Linked DNA regions of Homo sapiens: all the other regions are reported to be linked to region 1. The links are microRNA targets in miRTarBase. Many come from high-throughput screens and were not tested one by one. Region 1 holds a microRNA gene; each other region holds the end of a gene's coding sequence.

What was found. Region 1 holds the annotated microRNA hsa-miR-6828-5p (AGGAAGCAAGAGAACCCUGUGG, at 1,294-1,315, shown strand). A microRNA usually pairs through its seed, bases 2 to 8, with sites in the 3' UTR of a target mRNA and lowers its output. Matches are read on the target gene's strand: a 7mer-m8 pairs with bases 2 to 8, a 7mer-A1 pairs with bases 2 to 7 and ends in A, and an 8mer does both.
Region 2: the mRNA of BCL7A is a reported target of hsa-miR-6828-5p. Seed matches in the 3' UTR shown: 7mer-m8 at 3,178-3,184.
Region 3: miRTarBase lists LIN7C as a target of hsa-miR-6828-5p. Seed matches in the 3' UTR shown: 7mer-A1 at 3,158-3,164.

The regions. Positions count from the first base shown.
Region 1 is chr3:170,421,815-170,426,162 of GRCh38, forward strand. It overlaps MIR6828 (microRNA 6828), which reads left to right and starts at 1,289; the gene lies at 1,289-1,348. It overlaps CLDN11 (claudin 11), which reads left to right. Exons shown (of 3, transcript NM_005602.6): 2 at 1,349-1,513. RefSeq lists enhancers at 3,541-4,042, 4,043-4,348.
Region 2 is chr12:122,058,339-122,062,534 of GRCh38, forward strand. BCL7A (BAF chromatin remodeling complex subunit BCL7A) reads left to right here. Exons shown (of 6, transcript NM_001024808.3): 6 at 754-3,706. The coding sequence ends at 825. Among named protein-coding and RNA genes, the nearest start is that of LINC02985, 2.9 kb to the right of the region's middle.
Region 3 is chr11:27,494,851-27,499,046 of GRCh38, reverse strand. LIN7C (lin-7 cell polarity scaffold C) reads left to right here. Exons shown (of 5, transcript NM_018362.4): 5 at 243-4,196. The coding sequence ends at 398. Among named protein-coding and RNA genes, the nearest start is that of LIN7C, 9.8 kb to the left of the region's middle.

The DNA of each region.
Region 1 (4,348 bases):
ACATATTGTAATCTGTTTCTTAATACAGTTTTTACTTGGCATTTTACTTGACAGGATAAAGTTCATGTAGTTTTGCTCTACTCTTCTATTTTTCAGTTCTCTTATTCCTTGATTCGCAATTGTTTCCATGATCTGTTGTGGGCACTGTGTTAACTCCGTGAATACCAAGGCAGGTGTCTGCCCTCCAGGAACCCTGAGGGCTGGAGAGATGCCTTTTAAGCAATGATGGACAGTTGGGGAAGGATGCCCAGGGCACTGTGGGTGAGGCAGGAGATGGGGTCCAACAATTTAGGGGCAGGATCCATGAGGACAGCAGCCTCTGGGGAGACAGCAAAGAGAGGAAGCCTGAGTCTTAGTTTAGTCTGGGTTAGGGCCACAGCCAATGTGAATGAAAGCACATGGTTAGGAGAAAATCACCTAGGACACCTGAAGATGAAAGCGCTGCACTGAGACAGACAAAGAACACCAATGATAACAACTAACCTTTTTTGAGGATTTGGTATAGGCACTGTTTTAAGCACTAAATAAATTAACTAATGTAATCTTCAGTAGAATTCTATTACAGAGATGTAGGTACTATTATATTATTATCAATACTTTGTTTGTTTATTTATTTATTTATTTTGAGAAAGAGTCTCGCTCTGTCACCTGGGCTGGAGTGCAGTGGCTCGATCTCAGCTCACTGCAACCTCCCCCTCTCAGGTTCAAGCGATTCTGCTGCCTCAGCCTCCCCAAGTAGCTGGGACTACAGGCTCACACCACCACACCAGGCTAATTTTTGTATTTTTAGTAGAGATGGGGTTTCGCCCTGTTGGCCAGGCTGATCTTGAACTCCTGACCTCAGAAGATCCACCTGCCTTGGCCTCCCAAAGTGCTGGGATTAGAGGTGTGAGCCACCATGCCTGGCCTGTTGTTACTTTATAGATGTGGAAAATAAGACATCATGGTTAAGTAACTTGCCCAAGGTCACACAGGTAGAGCTATCAATAGCAGACTGGAACCAATAGAGGCCCTCACAGAATGATTCTTGGGAGATTTCAGTTTTCATCTGAACTTTCTCAGGGGGATGTAATAATGTAAATGGACTCTTGGCCCCTCCATCCTGGAAGCTTGGCCAAGTGGCCTAAACCAGGGGTCCCCATTTAGTTTCTCCAGCCCCCTTTTTTCTTGCTGAGTTGTTTTAAAAGTTAAAAAGTGCTTAGTGACCTTGGACAACATTAGCACCTTCTAAGTCCTGGAATCCACCAAGAAGGAGGAAGGGAGATGGTGCTGAATTCCCCTAAGGCAGGGCTCAGGAAGCAAGAGAACCCTGTGGTCTAACCTTTCCCATCTGCTCTCTTGTTCCCAGGCTACGTGCAGGCCTGCCGCGCCCTGATGATTGCTGCCTCGGTCCTGGGTCTGCCGGCCATTTTACTGCTGCTGACTGTTCTTCCCTGCATCCGGATGGGCCAGGAGCCCGGTGTGGCTAAGTACAGGCGGGCCCAGCTGGCTGGTGTTTTGCTCATTCTGCTGGGTAAGACAGCTTTCTCAGTGGTACCCTACCTATGAGGGAGCCTGATGAATCTCAGATCTTGTGGTTGCTGCCTTCTCAAGTTCAAGAGAAATGTGAAAGGAAGCCAAGTGAAGCCAGTGGGGGATGGACTCCCACAATCTGTATCCCTTTGTATTTTATGGGCAGTTTACACAGAGGGCTAAGTAATGTCTCTGGGAGTCACTGACCATGAAGATAAGTTTAAAAAGAGAAAGAGGATTTTGAAGGTAGGAAATACCTAAGGGAAAGACCTGAAAGATGGAAGCCTTCTCAGTCTTCACAGTGGAATCCTTTTTGAACACCTATGCCCAGGTCCCACAGCAGATCAATTGAATCAGAATTTTCTGGGCATCAGGCCAGGCAAAGATATTTTTTGAAAGCTTCCCAGGTGATGCTTATGTGCAGGCAAGACTGAGCAGCTCAGTTAATAAAGAAGGAGGCCGAGGTGGGCGGATCACCTGAGGTTGGAAGTTCAAGACCAGCCTGGCCAACATGGTGAAACCCCATCTCTACTAAAAATACAAAAATTAGCCAGGTATGGTGGTGCATGCCTGTAATCCCAGCTACTCGGGGCGGGGGTTGCTAAGGCAGGAGAATGATTTGAACCCAGGAGGCAGAGGTTGCGGTGAGCTGAGATCACGCTACTGCGTTCCATCCTGGGTGACAGAGTGCAACTCCAAAAAAAAAAAAAAAGAAAAAGAAAAAGAAAAAAGAAAGAAAGAAAAAAGTAAAGAAGAGGGCAAGAGAAAAGTCAGGAGTTGAGGGTGGTTAGACCACCAGGTGATGGCTCCGTCCTTTAACTCAGTAAGCCTTCCTTGAGCATGTGGGCCAGACACCATGGTAGGTACTGGGGACACTGGGGAAAATAGGCCGTCTTTGCTTTGAGTGTACTTGGAAACCTCAATAGAATATGGTATGTGCTCATGTAGAAAAGGTATATAGTCTGTGCATACACATAGGAAGGCACCTAACCCAGACTGGATGAGTTTCCAGAGTGGAAGAACCCAGCAGTAAGCTCTGAGACTTGAAGAGGAGGTGGGCTGGTCATGAATTGAGGGGAGGGACAGTCCAGGGACAGGAAATGGCATGTGCTCATTTGGTTTTGCTGATTATACCTGCACATAAAGGGCTTCATTTAACAACCTATGGAGGGTCCTTCTAGCTCTCTTCTCGTCAGTGATTTAATTTCTCTCCGTTTTTTTCCCTCAGATGCTAGTTTCATTAGCACATTCTAAATCCTAATAGACAATATGAATTTTAAGAACAACTCTTGTTGCAAAGTGCGCATATCAGTGACAACAAATTAGTCTGGTAATGGGTTAGATATAAAATCACCTTCTTCTGAAACAAGGAATTCATACCCCCAGATTGGCATATCAGATGATGAATTTGAGGGGTAAGGATAAGGGGTCAGGGTTCTGTGTGGGTTGATGCCACTTGGTGGGTACCTCCCATCTGGAGGCCTCACACTCATAATGACACCAGTAAGGTGAGGGGACATGAGAGGTGGGGCACCATTTTCCAGGATTGCAAAGGGACGGAGGTTTGCAGGTTCTTGTGAAGCCACAAGGGTGTGTGTGTGTGTGTGTGTGTGTGCGCGCGTGTGTGTGTGTTAACAGGAGTGAAAAGGCCACTAATTTCCAGAGAAAAATCTGAATGTGGAAATTTTGGTTCCAGCCACAAAGAATTTGTGTGCCAGCGTCACACGGAACACATATCAGCATCCGGTGCTTTATCTGACTCACAGGGGCTCCCTCTTGCAGTGCTCTATGGAGGTCAGGTCTATTGTCTGACTCCCTTTCCAACAGGAAAGTGAAAGCTCCACAAGTAAACTTGGTTTGCAGAATCCAGGTGAAACCCTTCTCCTAGACACTTGCTGTTTGTTACTTTCCTCACATTCTCACAGAAGCCCCGGAAGGTTCTCTTGGGCTCTGAGGATGGCAGAGCCAAAAGGTGGGTCTGTTGTGTTGAGTGCTCATGTTTAGAAATTCTGGCCTTCCATATGAATGTCACAGGTATCCACAAGTGAGAGAACACACTAAAACAAACATACAAACCCTGGAAAATAGAGGGATAAAAGCAAAGTATACGTAGTTTAAACAACCCTAAAAACAACAGAATTGTTTAGTTGAATAATCAGGGATATTGAAGGAAAAAGCAACCGGTGGTTTGAAACTTCCTAGCTGAATTTGTTTTTCTTTATCTTCTAAAAGTGTGTTGATATAGATAGGCAGCATCACAGAGGAAGAAAGCAAGGTGGGGCTGGGGAGTGGGTGAGTGCCTCAGTCCCTGTTTGCCTGTCTGGAGTGAAACTATGGGGGAAGCAGGACATGGAGGGACCTGACCCCACCCAAGGAGGCTGCCCATTTCCGGACACTCACCAGAGTCCCCTCATTGCCCTTTTACGGCCTTGCATTTCCGATATTGTCTGCCTGCTTTGCTCCTATCCGGATTTGTTTCTCAGTGGATCACCACTGCCTTTGGGCTGGATGTTGTTTTGACCGGAACGAGCTAGCTCTGGAAATGTAAAGCTCATTGTCTCAAGCATGGCACCTGCTGATCTCCTCTAGGTCTTCTCACCACGGAGCCCCAAGTGCCTTGTTTCCCCTGTTGGCAGTGGTGGGAGGAGCATGGGGACTGAAGGCTCCCTTTGTGTTGCTCTGGACTGTTTCTGTCACTCCCCCAGAGAAGCCAGCGCTAGGCCTGTGCAAGGTCCTCAGGGTCACTGAATGGGGCTGAACAAACACACCTCATTCGACCAAAGAAGATGAGGCACCTCCTGGGTTTCGGGGGCCTGGGAACTGGACACAGTGTCAC
Region 2 (4,196 bases), not on the chromosome of region 1:
ATGGTGAAACCCTGTCTCTACCAAAAATACAAAAAATTAGCCAGGCATGGTGGTGTGCACCTGTAATCCCAGCACTCTGGGAGGCCGAGGTGGGCAGATAACCTGAGGTCAGGAGTTTGAGACCAGCCTGGCCCACATGGTGAAACCCCGTCTCTACTAAAAATACAAAAATTAGCCGGGCATGGTGGCGCGTGCCTGTAATCACAGCTACTTGGGAGGCTGAGGCAGGAGAATCACTTGAACCCAGGAGGCGGAGGTTGCAGTGAGCCAAGATTGCCCCACTGCACTCCAGCCTGGCAACAGAGTGAGACTCCATCTCAACAACAAAAACAAGAACTTGGAAAGGTGAACTTGAAACAATAATCACAAGTAATCACCCTAGCAATGAATCATAGATGGGAAGATTGATAACAGCAACTTCTGGTCCAGTCTGAATGAGTGGGGAGAGCCTAGGGTCCAAGGCAGCAGTGTAGGAAATGCTCCCGAGTTACCAGCCATTGGCATGTGATAGGGTCAGGCAGGGGCCAGGGGACACCGCGCTCCATAGCTCCAGGAAGAGTTTGGGTGTGAGGGTCTCCATAGGTCCTCAAACTCTCTGGAGTCCACGCTTGGGCCTCGGGTCTGGAACTGCTGGTCTGAACCACAAAGCCGCCCCCGCTCGGTTCCTTCCTTGGCTGACCTTCGGCCTCACGCCTGGCCTAACTTGCTCTCCTGGCCCATTAACCTGTGTTCCCCTTTTCTCCTCTCCCCAAGGATTTGGAAGGAGTGCCACCCTCTAAAAAGATGAAACTGGAGGCCTCTCAACAAAACTCCGAAGAGATGTAGACGATGCTTTAAAGCCTCCGATCCATGTTCCATGGAAGGTACATCAGCAATTAATTCTAGAGCAACTTTGCCCCAGCGATTCCTCTTGGGTGCGAACAGAACTACTAACGTTTCAAGTTTACCAAGTGCAAATCCAAGAAGACCCAGAACGGCGTCACTTCTCAGACACTGAAGAACTCTGCTGTGAAGCAAAACACTCAAACCTTTAAGGGACTGTCCTTGGGGAGGCAGGCGGGGCTGACAGCTCAGGAGTGTCTGCACACTGTCTCGGAAGCCAGGATTCCATTTGTGTTGCTGCTGTATTTTCCCCCCACTTCTCTATGTAACGATATAAGCTATCGGAGGGTGGTACCGATCAGGAACGCTTTTTGGCGGGGCTTTCCACTGTTCAACCGATTCCTTCCGCTTTCTTTTTTTGTGCCTTGTGCCCTTGAGGTGACCTCTGGCATGTATCCTGGTGGTTCTTACATCCCCCTCTGCAAAGTGCCCTCTTGGTTTGGTTCGGGCGGCGGCTGCCACCCTACTCACCGCTCTCCTCCCTGCCCCAGGACTTCATCGGAGCAGGCAGGGTGGAGCGAAGGAGCTCCTTAGCCCACCTGGTTTGCAGGTGCAGGGGGACCTTAGGCACGCCCCAAGCACCAGGCACCAGGGCCCAAGGACGCGCAGGTGTTGGGGCACAGTCCCCAAGGGCTCGGCCCCTTGGATCAGGCTGGGCACTCGCTGTGCTCTCCCCTCCTTGGGGCGTTTAGGACTGGGCGTCTCCAAGCCCACCATGGCCCAGATGGACGTGCAAAGCCCTTGGAATTTTCTGGCACTTCCTCTCTATTGCCCCCACCACCACCACCCCCATCACTGCTTTCTCCCAGACCTCCGAATACGAAATGGCTTCTCTGGCTGACTGCAAGGCTGTCTCCTTAAGGCACTGAGTGGGCCGGGGAGGCTGGGAGCCGGCGGCAGGATTAGCTGGTGCTGAACTTTCTCTCATAGGACGTCGCTTGGATTTCAAATCCACGGTCACCTGCTGCCCTTTGCCTCCCCCGACGCCCCAGCCTGTGCCCCGGAGAGGCAGGATCGCAGTGGTCAGAATCCACGTGCTTTCCTATTCTCAGGCTGTTCTGACTCTGAGCCAACAGCTGGACCGTGTCTCATCCCCAGAACATGCCGTCTGTCCCCACCGGGGAGTGGGCCTTGATGGCCGGGCCTCGAAGGCCACAAACAAGGCGTCGAGGAATTGGAAAGATTTGCACACCCTCCAGAAAGGAGAGACGCAATCTCCCCTCCCTCCCATCCCCCACCTTCGCTGGAACAGCTTCCTCTCACTGAACGGAGACGCCCCCTTGGACGAACTGCCTAATCGTTTGGTTCTGAGGCCTGGTTTGCTCTTAATTAATATATGAACTCCTCAGACCTTAAACCTTTTCCTAAGCTTTCTTTACTGCACTGGAGTTCTGACTCCCTTTGAGTTGTGTGTTACTGGGGGTGGGGTGGGGTCATGGGTTTTGTTGTTTTTGGGGGCTAATTGGTGCATATTCAGGTACCACCTTTGACGTGTGGCTCTTTCTCCTGACCATCATGGGAAGTGTCTGCTGGATTCCATTTTCTAAGAGTTTCTGAGGGTGAGGCTCTTATTTTTTTTTTTAAGGGATCCTGTCTATTTCCTGCACTTCGAGAAGAATCAAAATGTTCCTGAATTTCAAATACCTCATGCAAAATGTCTCCTGAAATAAGGGAAAAAAAAAAAACCACAACTTTGAAAATCTTAATGTTGAAGTTAGCAATGCCGAAAGGTTTCTGTCTTAAAAAAAAAAATCCTTGTACTTATCAATTTTGCCCCTTAGGCAGTCAGTTTTGTTGAGAACTGTGTCCTGCATCCTGGCGCAGAACCTACCTGATGCGGTTCCTCTCCACGCATCTCGAGGCGGCGTTACCTCCAGATTCCGTAGAGTTAGAGTCACATTTTTCTTTGCAGCGAAACTCCATCTTGGTGAGAGATGAATTTGGATATTTATTTCCTTCTCTGTTTTTGGGAAACGAGAGGCTACAACCAAGACAGCTGAAGGAGAATGAAACACACACATCCACAGAAACAGAGAGGCGTAGGTGGCCCTGCCGTTGACCGCAGCCTCTCTGGACAGGCAAGGGGAGTTGGCGCAGGTGAGGACTCAGACGACGTCCACCGTCCCAAGGCTGTCACTAGTATTTCTCTGAAGTGCCTGAAGGTAGGAATGGGCCGGCGATTGGGACCAGCTGGGCCCCACCACGGCCACGCCAGGCAAAGCGCCAGCAGCCCTGCACTCCACGCTGGCCAAGAAGGCCTTCCACGCAGAATGACAAGACTGCAAAAATCCGATGTGCTTCCTTCCCTGGCGCAGTCGCTCCTCGAGCCGCTGCCCCCCACCCACCCTGCACCCCTCGCCCTCCCCCCACCACAGAATCTAAGACCTTTCAGCTTCGAGCCAGGGGGCGGGGGATCCCGAGCAAAAGCCTTCCGTGGACATCAGGCCCCGTGGCCTCAAGGGCTCCCAGGGCAAACCTAATTCCCCCCAAAACGTGAAGTCGGGGAAGCTGCGGCTACACATTCCACAAAGTGCTGGCACTTACACCCACAACCCGGAAGGCTGTGGACCGATTCCTCTAGGGTGGTGACCTCCCATTAGCAAACGGTGTCATGGTTTGGAATGTTCATTATCGCCAAGAACCTGGTTAGAGGCATAAAGACCTTTTTTCACCGTTACCTAATTTTTTCCCCTTTCAAGAATTTTTTTTTTTTTTGGTGTGTTGTACAGCAGTATAATTTTTCACTTATTTATTCCATCAGTAGATATGGTTTGTACAATGTACAATTGTTTCATTTCAGAAAATAAAAATTTCAAATCATGAATACCTTGTGGTTTTGTCTCATTTTAAGTAAGGTCAGATCGATGGTGACGGTGTCCCTCTCCAGCTGCTCCGGCCTCTCTTGCTTGGCCGTGTGGCCCTGATTCTACAAGACACACAAGTTCCTTGCACACAGGAGCTGTTGCCTTCCATAGTCATAAGAGCTGCCATTATTAAGCACCAGCTGGATGCCAGGCAAGCCACTAGTTGCTCCTTTCTGTGGGCAGGTATTGTTGGCCACCTTGTGCAGGTGAGAAAACAGCAGGACAGTCCCCTGCAGGGCTCTCATGCCGGGTCAGGCCCCCAGGTTGAAAGCCACACCTGAGGCCAGGCGTGGTGGCTCATGCTTGTAATCCCAGCACTTTGGGAGGCCGAGAAGGGCGATCACCTGAGGTCAGGAGTTCGAGACCAGCCTGGGCAACATGGCGAAACCCCGTGTCTACTAAAAATAGAAAAATTAGCCAGGTGTGGTGGCACACACCTTTAATCCCAAC
Region 3 (4,196 bases), not on the chromosome of region 1:
ATTAATATGCTAATTATTTGGAACTTAAAAGCCAGCTTTTAGACTATAAACAGAATATGATGTAAGAGAGGATTTCATATAGATTAAAATGGTAAGGCAGGATTATTTCTTAGTTTTGTAATGTTGGAATAATATAACATTAAAACTTTTCTTCATTATATATATTGTAAACATTTTTGCATTTTGAGTTACTTTCAAAACTTAGATATTAGTGTATGGTTGGTTGTTTTTTTTTCCCCTAGAGTGTTGAAGGAGAACATCATGAAAAAGCTGTAGAACTGCTGAAAGCCGCACAAGGAAAGGTTAAATTAGTGGTACGATACACACCCAAAGTCTTAGAAGAAATGGAGTCGCGCTTTGAAAAAATGAGATCAGCAAAACGCAGGCAACAGACCTAATACATTTCAAAACTTGATATTTCATTTTGCGTTTTAGCTAGAGAAGTTTTCCTTGTGACTTACTAATGGCTGCAATGCCAATGATTGTAAGAAAACAAACAAATTTATCATGAAATTCTCCTTGTCATTTTATAAATGCCTATTTTAACATCATTTATGGTTCCAGAGATGCATACACTTTTTTCTGACAAGAAAAAGTAAAAGGTGATGAGGGCAATTCTGTCCTACTGTTTTTACAGGCCTTTTTCAAATGCAGATTTTGTCATAAAGTTGTTATAGATTTTTTAAAATGCTTTTTTAATATTAAAATGTACTTTTACATTCTTAATCTTTTTTTAGAAAGGAAAAGTTTTCTTCATTTAGCTGCTGATTTAAAAGTAAAGTTCTCCAATTCTTTTTTTTTGCTTACTCTATTTTTTTTAACCTGTGAAATTTCTTTACAGTTTTCCAAGAAATTAAGCATAACAGTCTCATCTACGGCAGTTCATTACACTGTCAATGTTAACATCATTGCTGCATTTTGTACTTTGAACACACACATAATATATATAACCAGTGGTAAATCATGACTCAGTACAGTGCAAGTTTTTTCACTTTTACTTAAACATAATATATAATGGATATTCATTTATACTGATTTATGAAAGTAAGTTTTTAAACACTGAAACAATCATTGCTAAAATACATATTCTTAATATTTGAGCATTGAGGCAAGAGGATGTAATTGATAGCATTACTTATTACATCCCTATTTATGTTCAACCGTACATCAAATTATAAATGCAAAACAGGTTCAGATTTCATCTTTTGTGATTTCTTTTAAATACTATTCATTTTTATTTAAATGCACAGTATTTCCCCTATATTTTAGTCCTTCCATTCCTAGAGACAAACCAGTTATTTGGTGGTGGGAAGTAGCTGAAGCAAAGAAGGAAAAGTAATACCTTTAACCTCACTAGCTTCAAGAGTAGACATTCTTACTAGCTCAATTTAAATAATTGATTTTAAATAGGAAGAAAAGAGGATATATTTAAGATACATAGAAATTATGATGTGAAGTATTCATGAGAATCTGTAGATTCCATCAAAATAAGTAGGAACTCATACTAAAATTGTTGGATTTAAAGAGGCAACTTTTGTTTATGATTCAAATATGGGAATTTGAGAAATATTTCATTTGTCCACTGGATGTCACTATTTTACTAAAAGGCAGCTATTAGTGTGGGACTGTGACTGAGGTCTTAAAGACTGAAAGAGTTGGGGTTCATTTTCTGTTACAACTTACAGGAACATTTGTACTTTAAGAAAAATTTAAGTGACAAATGTTAGAAGATGATGGATTGAAAAATATAAGTAATTTGGCATATTGACCCTATATAAAAAAGTGGGCATTTTGTAACATTCCTTCAGGAAGAATAGAATTGTATGCTTTTTTCTGCATGTTTGTGATCACTGTGAGTCTCAGATGATTATTCCAGTTTTCAATGATTTTTCAAAATAAAAGTCAATCAGCATTGTTATTTATCATTAAGGTATTGAACACTGGATTGCATGGTTGAATGTGTCTTTAATCCACTACAAAATGTGCTTGTTATTGATAGGATCATGTTGTTAAATTGTAAATTTTCAAAATTAATTGATGTTTTAAAAATGTTGAGACCAAAGTAGTATAGAAGTATGGACTTAATTTAATTGTAAAATTATTAGAGGTATTTGTTGTAGAGCTTTATATATTAAAGAGAGGTATTGGTGCATATAAAAACAGTAATATTATTGTTATGCTTGTATTCTTGCATTTCAGGGTAAGTAAACCCTGAAGAAATCTTATTTTAGTATAGCTACAGCTGCAGTAGCTTTTAAGTATGTATCAACATTTCATTATAAATTATAGCTTCCTGGTTCTGTGTCTCAGCTGTTTCAGAACTTTCAGCCAAGTTAAATCTTTTTTGGTGTTGAAACTTTTAGTAAGTTGAGTAAGCTATTTTTTTCCCTACGGTAATCCACAATCTGTTCTTTGTGTGGGTTGACACCTATTTATAATTCTTAAAATAAGGGTAGCTCAAAGGAGCCAAGTACAGTAGTTTAGCTTGCTACTGTTGAGCATGAATAGCAGTAGGTTGTTTTCATTAATGCAGTTTTCATAATGTATCCCAGAATTTTAAATCTTGACCATAGAAAAATACAGTCATTCATTGGCAAAGATGTACAGTGGTGGTTTAGTGCAGTGAGGAAATGATGGGAATTTTTATCTTAGAAATGGATGATTCGTGAATAAAACTAGGTACATAGTAAGTGTATGATAGATGTTTGATTTGTAAATTACAAATATAAATTATCACCCCCATTTCCATTTATTTTCTTGATATATCAAAATGTGTTGACTTAGTGATTCTCAATCTTAGCTACATATTAGCCTGGCAGAGCTTTAAAAAATTGATACCTGGGTCCTATTCCATAACAACTAAATCAAAATCACCCTTTTTTTTTTTTTTGTAAAGCTTTCCAGGTGGTTCTAAAGGACACCTAGGGTCAATAACCCATTATAAAATGATCTGATTACACTGGACACTCTTAGGAAGTATCAAAATAGAACAGTTCAATTTGCAGCTACTTAATGATTAATTACATTTCTTAGGTTTTTTTTTTGTTTTTTTTTTGGTTTGTTTGTTTTTTGTTTTAAAAGAGACAGGATCTTGCTTTGTCTCCCAGGCTGGAACACAGTGGTGTGATCATAGCTCACTGCAGCCTGAAACTCCTTGGCTTCCACCTCAGCCTCCCAAAGCATTAGGATTATAGGCGTGAGCCACTGCACCTGGCCAAGTAATTTCTTTTAGGAATAAAAGGTACTTGGCATTCCTTATTTGGGAAGTAATTACAGTCTTATCTTTTTTTTTCTTTTTTCTTTTTTTTAATAAAATCTACCAGTAATTTAAATGTGAGCTTTTTATGTCTGTCATCATTCTGCCCCCTTTGCCTTTAAAACTTACAAAAATACGTGTTTGTTATTTGAGAAAGCATGTTTAAAAATTGCAGATGAGAAATATTGTCGTTAATAATTATGTACTGTCTTAATGTGGGCACTTCATTTGTTAGTATAATACTAGATAATAGCAGCCTAGTTCTTTAGGATTTGACGATTCAAATTTTTTTTTTGTTTTTTGTTTTTGTTTTTTTTTGAGACAGAGTCTTGCTCTGTTGCCCAGGCTGGCGTGCAGTGGTGTGATCTCGGCTCACTTCAGCCTCCGCCACCTCAAGGCAGTTCAAGCAATTCTCCTGCCTCAGCCTCCCGAGTAGCTAGGACTACAGGCGTGTGCCACCTCTCCCGGCTAATTTTTTTGTATTTTTAGTAGAGACGGGGTTTCACCGTGTTAGCCAGGATGATCTCGATCTCCTGACCTCGTGATTCGCCCGCCTCGGCCTCCCAAAGTGCTGGAATTACTGGCGTGAGCCACCATGCCCAGCCTCAAATATGTTTTTAAAAAATATCATTGTCCTCCTCCTCTTAAGATTTTTTTAAGTTATTTTGCTCAAGTACTTAAGTAGTCTGGCTCAAGTACTTTGTTTACAATTAAAATGGATATTATAGCATTTAATAGAAGAAATGGTTATGGCTTATCCAAAAAGAATGTCAGCATGACCTGGTGTAGACTTAAAAAACTACATGTTTGTGAATATTTTATAATGTGGAATGATCATTGAAATATCAAGGATTCTAGTAATTGTATTTCCTGAATAAATGTATGTTTATGAATTTTCTAACTTACATTTTGTTGTGTCCTCTGCCAACAATCTGGTTTT